Linked DNA regions of Homo sapiens. The protein of the gene in region 2 interacts with the protein of the main gene of each other region in a biochemical or structural test. Each region holds a gene or a part of one and is shown on either strand. Other genes may lie near its edges. The genes, in order: KMT5A, RNF168 and DGCR8.

The links.
Region 1: the proteins of RNF168 (region 2) and KMT5A form a complex in vitro, tested with the Homo sapiens proteins (one study listed by BioGRID).
Region 3: the proteins of RNF168 (region 2) and DGCR8 form a complex in vitro, tested with the Homo sapiens proteins (one study listed by BioGRID).

Annotation. Positions count from the first base shown.
Region 1 is NC_000012.12:123,397,538-123,401,186, reverse strand, and holds part of KMT5A (N-lysine methyltransferase KMT5A), read right to left. Parts: intron 1-3,649. UniProt on the Homo sapiens protein: Protein-lysine N-methyltransferase that monomethylates both histones and non-histone proteins. Specifically monomethylates 'Lys-20' of histone H4 (H4K20me1).
Region 2 is NC_000003.12:196,493,695-196,497,343, forward strand, and holds part of RNF168 (E3 ubiquitin-protein ligase RNF168), read right to left. Parts: intron 2,778-3,649; exon of another isoform or gene 2,520-2,777; intron 1-2,519. UniProt on the Homo sapiens protein: E3 ubiquitin-protein ligase required for accumulation of repair proteins to sites of DNA damage. Acts with UBE2N/UBC13 to amplify the RNF8-dependent histone ubiquitination.
Region 3 is NC_000022.11:20,107,600-20,111,248, reverse strand, and holds part of DGCR8 (microprocessor complex subunit DGCR8), read right to left. Parts: intron 2,360-3,649; coding exon 2,246-2,359; intron 1,225-2,245; coding exon 1,141-1,224; 3' UTR 1-1,140.

The DNA.
Region 1 (3,649 bases), on a different chromosome or scaffold from region 2:
ACAGAGCAAGACTCCATCTCAAAAAAAAAAAAAAAAAAAAAAGAAAGATATATATTGGTGGAATAGATTTAAAAAAAACAACAACAAAACTTGGTCAGGTACAGTGGCTCATGCCTGTAATCCCAGCAGTTTGGGAGGCCAAGGCAGGTGGATCACCTGAGGTCAGGAGTTCGAGACCAGCCTGGCCAACATGACGAAACCCTGTCTCTACTAAAAATACAAAAATCAGCCGGGCATAGTGGTGCACACTTGTAATCCAAGCTACTTGGGAGTCTCAGGCCAGGAGGCGGAGGTTAGTAAGCCATAATCATGCCACTGTACTCCAGCCTGGGCAACAGAGTGAGACCTTGTCTCAAAACAAAAAACAAAAAACAAAAAAAAAACTTCAACCAACAGTAATATACCAATGTTGGTTGTTACTTAGCTGTGACAAATTCACCAGAGTAACTTAAGTGAGAGAAGATGGGTAAGGAGTCTGGGGAACTCTCTGTATTATCTTTGCAACTTTTCTATAAAATTAAAATTATTGGCCAGGCGCGGTGGCTCACATCTGTAATCCTAGCACTTTGGGAGGCCAAGGTGGGCGGATCACAAGGTCAGGAGTTTGAGGCCAGCCTGACCAACATGGTGAAACTCTGTCTCTACTAAAAACACAAAAATTAGCTGGGCGTGGTGGCAAGCGCCTATAATCCCAGCTACTTGGGAGGTTGAGGCAGGAGAATTGCTTGAACCTGGGAGGTGGAGGTTGCAGTGAGCCGAGATCGCACACCTGCACTCCAGCGCGGGCTACAGAGTGAGACTCTGTCTCAAAAAAAAAAAAATTGCAAAATAAAAACATTTTAAAAACTTTTTGGCTGGGCACGGTGGCTCACGCCTGTAATCCCAGCACTTTGGGAGGCCGAGGCGGGCGGATCACAAGGTCAGGAGATCGAGACCATCCTGGCTAACACGGTGAAACCCCGTCTCTACTAAAAACACCAAAAATTAGCCGGGCGTGGTGGCAGGCGCCTGTAGTCCCAGCTACTTGGGAGGCCTTTTTAATTATTTTTTAAGATGGGGTCTCACGGCCGGGCTCAGTGGCTCACGCCTGTAATCCCAGCACTTTGGGAGGCCGAGGCAAGTGGATCATGAGGTCAGGCATTTTGAGACCAGCCTGGCCAACGCAGTGAAACCCTGTCTCTACTAAAAATACAAAATCAGCTGGGCATGGTGGTGGGCGCCTGTAATCCCAGGTACTCAGGAGACTGAGGCAGGAGAATCACTTGAACCCGGGAGGTGGAGGCTGCAGTGAGCCAAGATCGCGCCATTGCACTCCAGCCTAGGTGACAGTGTGAGACTCTGTCTCGAAAAAAACAAAACAACAAAAAACCCACAAAAGATGGGGTCTCACAATGTTGCCCAGGTTGGTACTGAACTTCTGTTCTCAAGTAATCCTCCCACCTCAGCCTCCCAAGTAGCTGGTGTCTTTTTTGTTGTTAATTACTCCCCATTGGAAAACAAGCCCTACGGGCTGGTCTAGTTTACTGTGGAATCTCCTGGTCTAGAACAGTGCACACAGCAGGCCCTCAAAGCAACACCACCACCATCACACACATAACCACCTTGCTGTGTGACCCATTCATTGCAAGTGTGCAGAGAGTGCTGAGAAGTACGGGGGCCCATGTAAACGGGAGTGATCATGGAAAGACCGGGGTAGTGGAATGGGGGTTTTTCTGCTGGGACCAAACACGGCAGGTAGGAGATGCGCAGAGGGAAGCTGGGACCAGGCCAGATGCCCCGGCACAAAGCCAGGGAGGCTGAGTCTCCCAAAGGCCTGGAATTTGGGGCCTGCAAACAACCAGCCCTGGGTTTTCTAAAGGGACTTCTGGCAGGAACCCACAAATGGGCCTAGAAGGAGATGGAGTGGGAGGGATACAAGGTTGGAACTAGGGCAGTTGAGAAGCGCCTGTGACCAGGAAGGAGGGGACCTTCCCAAGCGGAATCAGCAGGCTGCTTGCACATCTGGCCCTGGGGCCGAGCTGGGCATGAGGAAGCCCAGCCATTGCCAAGAGGCATGGTCCCTGCCCCGCTGCTGGCTGCCACCCCACCCACAGCCAGGCTGGCCGGCCAAGGGGCCCCTGCAGTGAAGCACTTGGTGGATAGGGCATCTCTCCAAGGCCCACCTTGTGTCCAAATCCAGCAGCCCTGATCCCACCCTGTTGCCCAGGACCCACGCCCTGGCGCTAGGCCCGCCCTGGCTGCTGTCTTCAGCCTCAGTGGAGGTATATAAGAGGCTCTGAATTGCAGTTTCACCCCAGACCATCTGGCCAACAACAGGCTGTATTATGCCCCACCCTCCTGGATCCACAGCCTGGGCCCAGCATGGCAGTCAAGTCAGGACTGACCCCACCCTTCAGATGAGCCCCAGCTGTCCCGTTCTTGGGCTTTATCTGTGCAGTCAGAAAATATTCCACCCTGACCAGCTCTAGCCACGTCATCCCGGCCAGCTATGGCCTCCCTGCCCTGGCCAGCAACAGCTTGCATGGCTGCACTCAGCAGAGCCAACACAAACAGTGGGGGGCAAAGCACGGCTCCCGGTCCAGGAACAGGGCGAGCTTTCTTGTGTTTGCAGACTGTGCTTTAGGGAAGCAAGTGTGTTCTTCCCTTCTGCTCATCTGCTGCAAGATTTAGCAGACCTGCATCCTGTCCCATCGCAGCCTTCACTCTGCCCAGCACAAACTCTTGCTTCTTATTAACAAGGCCAACTCGGCTCCCCCCACCCTAAAGTCCACAGCAGCCCTTGGTGGACGCTCAGCAGAGGCCCTGTGTGTGGGCACACCGCAGCTCCAACCCTGGCTGGGAGGTGTCTGGGATTCTGTGGTCTGGCACCACCTCACCATCTGCAGTGCTGTCTTTTTTTTTTTTTGAGACGGAGTCTTGCTCAGCCACCCAAGATGGAGTGCGGTGGCGCGATCTCGGCTCACTGCAACTACCGTCTCCTGGGTTCAAGTGATTCTCCCATCTCAGCCTCCCAAGTAGCTGGGATTACAGGCACCTGCCATCATGCCTGGCTAATTTTTGTATTTTAGTAGAGACAAGGTTTCACCATGTTGGCCAGGCTGGTCTCGAACTCCTGACCTCAGATGATCCGCTCACCTGGGCCTCCCAAAGTGCTAGGATTACAGGTGTGAGCCACTGCACCTGGCCCAGTGCTGTCTTTAAGAGTGACCTAGCAGGCCGAGCACGGTGGCTCACGTCTGTAATCCCAGCACTTTGGGAGGCTGAGGTGGGCGGATCACCCGAGGTCGAGAGTTCGAGACCAGCCTGACCAACATGGACAAATCCAATCTCCACTAAAAAAAAAAAATACAAAATTAGCTGGGCGTGGTGGCGAATGCCTGTAGTCCCAGCTACTCAGGAGGCTGAGACAGGAGAATCACTTGAACCCAAGAGATGGAGGTTGCGGTGAGTCGAGATCACGCCATTGCACTCCAGCCTGGGCAACAAGAGCAAAACTCCATCTCAAAAAAAAAAAAAAAAAAAAGTGACCTAGCACAGCCTCCCACTGCTGACAAATGTTTTAAACAGCTCATTCTTGGCTGAAAGACATTGCCTTTTTCAGGCAATAAAACCAAAGCTGCTCTCTGTGGGGAAGAAAATGGACCTTTTT
Region 2 (3,649 bases):
TTTTGTAATTTTAGTAGAGACGGGGGTTTTACCATGTTGGCCAGGCTGGTCTTGAACTCCTGACCTCAGGTGATCCACCTGCCTTCCAAAGTGCCAGGATTACAGGTGTGAGCCACCGTGCCCAGCCTTCCATTTGCTATTTCTTTCTTTTTTTAAATTTATTTTTTTTTTTTTTTGAGACAGAGTCTCACTTTGTCACTCAGGCTGCAGTGCAGTGGTGCAATCTCAGCTCACTGCAGTGTCCACCTCCCAGGCTCAAGCAATGCTACTGCCTGAGCCTCCCATGTAGCTGAGACTACAGGCGCCCACCACCACACCCGGCTAATTTTTGTATTTTTTGTAGACGGTTTTGCCCTATTGGCCAGGCTGGTCTCACACTCTCAGGCTCAAGCGATTTGCCTGCCTTGAACTCTCAAGTACTGAGATTACAGGTGTGAGCCCCCGCACCTGGCCTGTTTGCTATTTCTTAAACAACTCTAATTTTATAAGAAATTTGAATATCTCAGTTTTATAGTCTTAAAGTGACTATACAATTTTTGCCATCTGTTGGAAACAACTCTCGACACTCTTCAGTTCTGGTTAACTCTAAAATTTCTGCTGAAACCCACTTCGGTTAAACATTCCTACTCTACTCGATATTTTGCTTCTTCGCAGCAAGTGGTCTTCCTAGGCGGCCAGGACTCATTTAAGGAAATATGTCCCCATGCTTTTTATTTTATTTTGAAGGAAAAATTCAAGTTAGTTAAAGACCTGAATGTATAATACTGGATGAAAAATAAAAATAAATAATAAGCCTTAACTTGAACAGTTGAGCTGTTCATAAAACTGCCCTCCCATCACTGAACTAGACTGCAGCTCCATGTAAATGGCAGTTTCCTTCTCCCAATTAAATGTGCATTCCTGGGCTGGGCACAGGGTACAAAATAAAGAGATAGTTAAAAAATAAAAAGCCCAAAGTTGCTCTGGAAAATAAGCATATGATTTGTGAAGCAGTATGTACATCAGTGTGGCTGGATCATCACCAAGTAGTGTGGCTATAAATGGCAATCAGGGGCAAAGTGCTCACACCTGTGATCCCAGCACTTTGCGAGGATGAGGCAGGAGTATCACTTGAGCTCAGGAGTTCAAGACCAGCCTCGGTAACATAGTGAGACCCTATCTCTACAAAAAATAAAAAAATTAGCCTGGCGTAGTGGTGTGTGCCTGTGGTCCCAGCTACTCAGGAGGTTGAGGTGGGAGGATTGCTTGAGCCCGGGCGGTGGAGGGTACAGTGAGCCAAGATCGCTCCCTGGCATTCCAGCCTGGGCGACTAAGTGAGACCCTGTCTCGAAAATAAAATAACATAAACTAAATTTGCACTTTCTGCCTCAATATTTATTTTGAAAATTTTCAAATCTACAGAAATTGCAAAAATAGTATGATAAACCCCCGTTTAACCTGCATTTAGATTCATGAAGTTTTTAAACTGCCACATTGCCTTTCGTGTGTGTGTGTGTGTATTTTCTGAACCATTTGAAAGTTGCATGATCATAACCCTTCACCAAATCCTTACGTGTCCACCTCATAAGAGATGCTGTCCTTATCTCTTGATTTGATATACAATGATCAAGTTCAAGAAAATTAACATTGATATATTACCCATCATATCAATGATAAAAATTTCACCAACTATCCCCATGTCTTTAATAACAACCTTTGTCCTAATCCATGTTCTAATCCAGGGTCATGCACTGCATTTAGCTGTCATTCTCTTTTAATCTCCCTTTCAACTAGAATGATTCCTAAGGCTTTGCCTTCATGACACTGACATTTTTGAGGTACTAACAACTACGTTTTGTAGAATTTCAATTTGGGTTTTTGTTTTCTCACAGTTAGATTCAGGTTATGCCTTATACTCGTCCTATCAGGAGGACCGCAATGTTTGTTTGTTCCATGGATAACGTTAACTGTGATCACTTCATTACTGTGGTAACAGGCTTCTCGACTGTATCCTTCACCCTTTGTAATTAATAAGCAATCTGTAAGATGATATTTTCAGACTATATGAGTCCTCCGTTCTCCGGCAAATTTTCAAGCAGGGATTTTGGCATCCGTTTGTAATTCTTGCCTGCATCAATTTTTACAGTGACAGTCGCAAACAGAAAGGAAATTTAGACATTCTAAGGCTGATTCTTCCCTACTATAGGATTCTTTTTTGAGAAATCCAAATGTAAAACACACCTGTCTCCGTCACACTAATTCACTTTCAAATACTTCATTTTTTAAAGCTATCTCATATGTGCTTTCTTACAACCTTCCTTCCATAAATTAAAAATACATAAAGTAAATGAGTAGATTCACTTTATGTATTATGTGTTAACAAAGTTAACACAGAAACACCAATTATATTTTTATAAATTATCAATGAACAATACTGAAAATTTTTTAAAATTTACTTAAAACAGTCTCAAAAGCCATAATATAATTAGGGATAAATATTAGTTTCTTAGGGCCACCATAGAAAAGTACCACAAATTGCGTGACTTGAAAATACAGCAATTTATTTTCTCACAGTTCTGGCTAAAAGTCCAAAATAAATGTGTCAGCAGGGCCATGACACTTTTCAAACTTGTAGGGGATCCTTCCTTGCCTCTTCCTTGCTTCTGACAGTATGCTGATAACCTTAGACGTTCCTTGGGTTGTAAATACATCACTCCAGTCCTCCAGCCTCACGTGGTACTCTGTGTCTTTACATCATCTTCCTTCTGTGCGTGTCTGTCTCTGTGTCCAAATTTCTCCTTTTTATAAGGAAACCAGTCATAATGGATTAGGGCCCATTCTAATGACCTTATTTTAACTTCATTACTGAAAAAAATTGAAGGTGACCTACACAAACAGAGAAATATACTATTTTCATGGATACAAGGACTCTGTTGCTGTTTGGATGTCAATTCTCCCCAAATTGTTCTATTAAGTTCAATGCAACCCCAATCAAACTCCTAACAGGCTGTTAGTAGAAACTGGTAAGTTGATTGAAAAATTTAAATAGGCTGGGTGTGGCGGTTCAGGCCTGTAATTCCAGCACTTCAGGAGGCTGAGACGGGAGGACTGCTTGAGGTGAGCTGTTCAAGACCAGCCTGGGCAGCATAGCAAAACCCCGTCTCTACATACAAAGAATAAATATACGGAGGACGGGCACGATGGCTCACGCCTGTAATCCCAGCACTTTGGAAGGTCGAGGCAGGAGTATCATCTGAGGTCAAGAGTTCGAGACCAGCCTGGCCAATGTGGTGAAACTCCCGTCTCTATTAAAAATACAAAAATTAGCCAGGCATGGTGGTACATGCCTGTAATCGCAGCTACTCAGGAGGCTGAGGAAGGAGAACTGCTTGAACCTGGGAGGCAGAGGATGTAGTGAGCTGAGATCACGCCACTGCACTCCAGCCTAGGCAACAGAGCAAGACTCTGTCTCAAAAAGAAAAAAAAAGATTTACTCTAAAGTCACAGTAATCAAGACAGTGTGACACTAATATTAGAATCAACGGATCAATGAAATAGAATAGACCCACATTATTTTTTTTAAAAAGTCTTTTCAACAAAAGGTACAGAAATAACTGATACCCATATGGGAAAAAGTTAACCTCAACCCCCTAACTTATACAATATTCAA
Region 3 (3,649 bases), on a different chromosome or scaffold from region 2:
CCACCAGGGCCAGCCTTTGAGCACACCCTGGTGCCTCAGACTCCGGCAGGAACACATTTCCATCGCACACCCACCCATAGGGGCCACCAGTCGAGAAGCAAGCTGGGCACCAGGCAGCTGCCTTTGACATCCAGAGAAACCGCTGTCACAGGCAACAGCTCTGGATCAAGAATGGGCTACACTGAAGGCCCTTGCTTCCTGTTTCAACAAGTCCACTTGCTAAAATGCATGATTCCAAATCTACCTTCTACTCTCACTGTGAAAGTCTTTCAAAATGCTAAAATATCACAAAAGCTTTAAAAATCAATGGGTGGACATATGGACTCGACTGCAAAAAATCTTTGTAAAAAACTGTTGCCGGAGGCCAGGAAAGGCAGAGAGGGCCTCAGTGTCCAAAGAGGCGCTTTTAGGGAATTAAGACTTCATCAGAAAAAGGGACCCTAGGAGGCCAGGGTAACTCCAGGAGGTGGCAGGACGTCATCCTTGCTGGCATCGTGTCCAGACTGGAGAGGGACCACCTTGATGGTTTGCCTCCAATCCCAGAAAGCTAGTTCTGATGCTAAAATTCTGTTTAAGCCAAAAAGGTTTAAAATATTCCTTTCTCTTCTACCTTTTCAAAGAAGGGGAAACACAGAGGGTGGGTGAGGGCAGGGCACCATGTGCACCTCCTGACCAGGTCCCTGTAGCAGCCCTGCAGGCGCCCTGGGCACATGGGCCACCTGGCATCACGGGCCAGCCACAGGACTCAGCCATCCCCTCTCATCTGTCATCCAAGCATCATGTGTCGTCAGTGCGTATTACATACTAAAATTCATGAAAGCCTTCATAAAAAGAGCCTGCAGCAGGTGCACAGAAGCAGGGTCCACCACTGTCCACAGTCACCAGCTGCCACTGGTGCAGTCGCTGAGTCCATCCATTCAGGCCTGGAGCTTTCCAGGGAGAGCCGCTGCTCCACATGTGTGCTGTGTGGCCATGGCTGTCCCTGTACACTAAAGCCTCCACCCTAAGGCCGGGCCCACAGGTTGGCCACAGGGAAGGAGCGTGGGTTGGAGGCCTGACACTGTGGTGCACGATGCATGACTGCTGGTCTCCTCAGAAGTGCGGCTGGCGGCCCCCGCGCCCTGGCCCGTGCCACCTCCCTCACACGTCCACGGTGCACAGGGGCTCACCGCCAGGCTGGGCGGACGCCACAATGGACATCTTGGGCTTCTTTCGAGTCTCCTCCTGAAAGAACAACAAAGGTCAGGGGTACCAGTGAGGTGGGCTTGGCAGAGGCTCGGGAAGACACAAGGTGGAGGGAGAGCCCAGCAGATCATGCCAGGAGGCCCTGGAGCCCCAACGGCACCAGTGCTTGTGATGCCAGGCTAGGAGGAGCAGGGAAGGCCTGGGGCAGGCCAGCCTGAGATTGCAGAGGCCCCCTGCATTGCCATCAGAGTACAACATGTGCAGCCTCCCTGGCAATCAGGACATGTACCAAGAAGTGAAGAATTTTGGGTGCAGTTACAGGGACAGGCCAGGCCTCCCCATTGGGTGTTCCTCCCTTGCCCAGCTTTTGCTTGCCCCAGGCCCAGCCAGGAGCACTATGTCCTGCACCTGCTGCCCTTGAGCCCCACAGCCCCTCTTCCGACCAGGGGCAAACCAGGCAGTCCCACTGGCTCCAGGAGGCCAAGCCCCACCCCAGGGAGCAGCAAGGGACCTGCTGGCCTGGGCGGCAGCAGATACCTCCTGGGGCTCTCACCCAGGCCAGGGGACTGCCACACTTAAGAAAGCTCCCACCCAGAAGGCCCAGGTGGGCAGGTCACGCCGTGGCCAGGCAGACGATGCCTGAAGACAGAAGACACCACTGCCAGCCTGACAGGCCCCTCTTTGAGTGGGGTTCCCAAGGTGGCTTTAGGAGGCTTCATCAGGACCAAGCCCTACAGATTCAACCCTGGCAGGTGCACTGACCTACCTCCAAACACCCAGGGAGGACATGGGACTCAGGTGGCCCACCAAGACTGTGACCTTCATGGTCCACCAACAGGCTGGCCTGCCAGCTCTCTAACAACAGAACCAAAACTGAAGTGATTTATAAAACTATCACACATGTCGAAGCTCAAAGAAAAGCCTGTATCTGATTTTGGAAGGAGGATCCAAGCATTTCCAAGGTGTCAGCTCAGGCACGGGTCCTGGGGTCTGCTGTCCCTCCACAGGTGCCACAGGAATGGCCGTGGCCCGGCAGCCCTCCCGCTAGGGTGGCACTCACCCTTTCCTCAGCTAGCCTCTTCATCTCCTCTTGGAGCTTGCTGAGGATGTGCAGGTTGGGCTTGTTCTTCTTGGCATACTGCTGCAGCTCAATCACACTCTTGTCCGATGTCTCCTGGGAAGTATAGCACCTCACGCTCAGGACTGCAGGCTGTAGCTCTACGGCCTGCCCGCTGCCCAGCAGCTGTGTGCCTGGGACCCTGAAGGCAGGCGCGCCCAGGGTCTGGCAGACACGAAACAGCCAGGAGCTGTGGCAACATAACTGCATGCTGACTGGCCCGCCTCAGTGATGCCAGGCCCACTGACAGCAGCAGAGAGCGAGGGGCAGTCCATAGCTGCCAGGCCTTTCTGCCCACACCACGCCACTTATATGGCCTCCTGCCATGGGCAGAGTAGGGAGGTGAGGTGCTCGTGGTGCCCAGAGTCCTCATCAAGGAGTGAAACCAGAGTGTGGCCATAGCCAGTAAGAACAGCACGCTGCAGCCCAGCCCATCAGCCTCAGGCACTGAGCTCTCTGCACACTCCATGAATGCAGAGCAGCATCAGGCTGGCCTCAGCCCCTTCCCGTCTTAGGCCAGCCCCAAGGGTGCTGTGGTTCCTCGGGATGCCAGAGCTCCCCCAAGCTGTGGCTGTGCCTGGCTGGGACCTTTCCCCCTCCTGCTCAGGGAAGTTTCCCACCCCCGGGCCAGAGTGGGGCTTGCCTTCTCTCCCTCCGTCACAGCCAAGGACCATGCACAGCAAGGGCAGAAGCAAGTGCTACCTACATTTCAACTTGCTTCCCAAAAATCTCTCTCAAGTTCCTTAACATGCCCTGGTGGCCCGTGTGAGCCCCCTCACCCTCCCTTATCATGTCCAGAGTAAAGGCCTCTTCGGGGACAGTGCCGAGGCCTCGGTCTCAGGGACCTAAAGGCAGGCCCTGCTCTTGGCAGCTGGCTTGGGCAGAGGGCCCACCCACCACACAGTCCTAGGGCTGCCCCACCTGCAGGCCTAACCCCTCCACAACTACTTCCCCTTCCAATGACCAGGAGGGCAAGAACCCAGAGAGTTTCTGTAATCATTTGAGGAAAATGATTACACTCACCTCCCCATGTTACCCTCCACCCCTCAGGAGTGGGCACTGGCTTACACTGCAGGATGTTGGCCACAACAGCAGAAACAAGACAGATGGTACACATATGCTCTTCTGTTAGAGATGGACCGGCACTGGTACCAGGGAGAGCTACCCTGACACACTCGCTCTCCTTCAAGCAGGGAGAGCTGGCCCTGGCTCCTGAGCCTTTGCACACCTCCGAGCCGGGCGCACCTTCAGCATCTCCTGCCTGGCCCTGCCTTGCACTTTGGCCATCTCCCTACAAGCCACATAGCTGGGCCCAGCCTGCGTTCCCAATCACCCACACTTCACTGA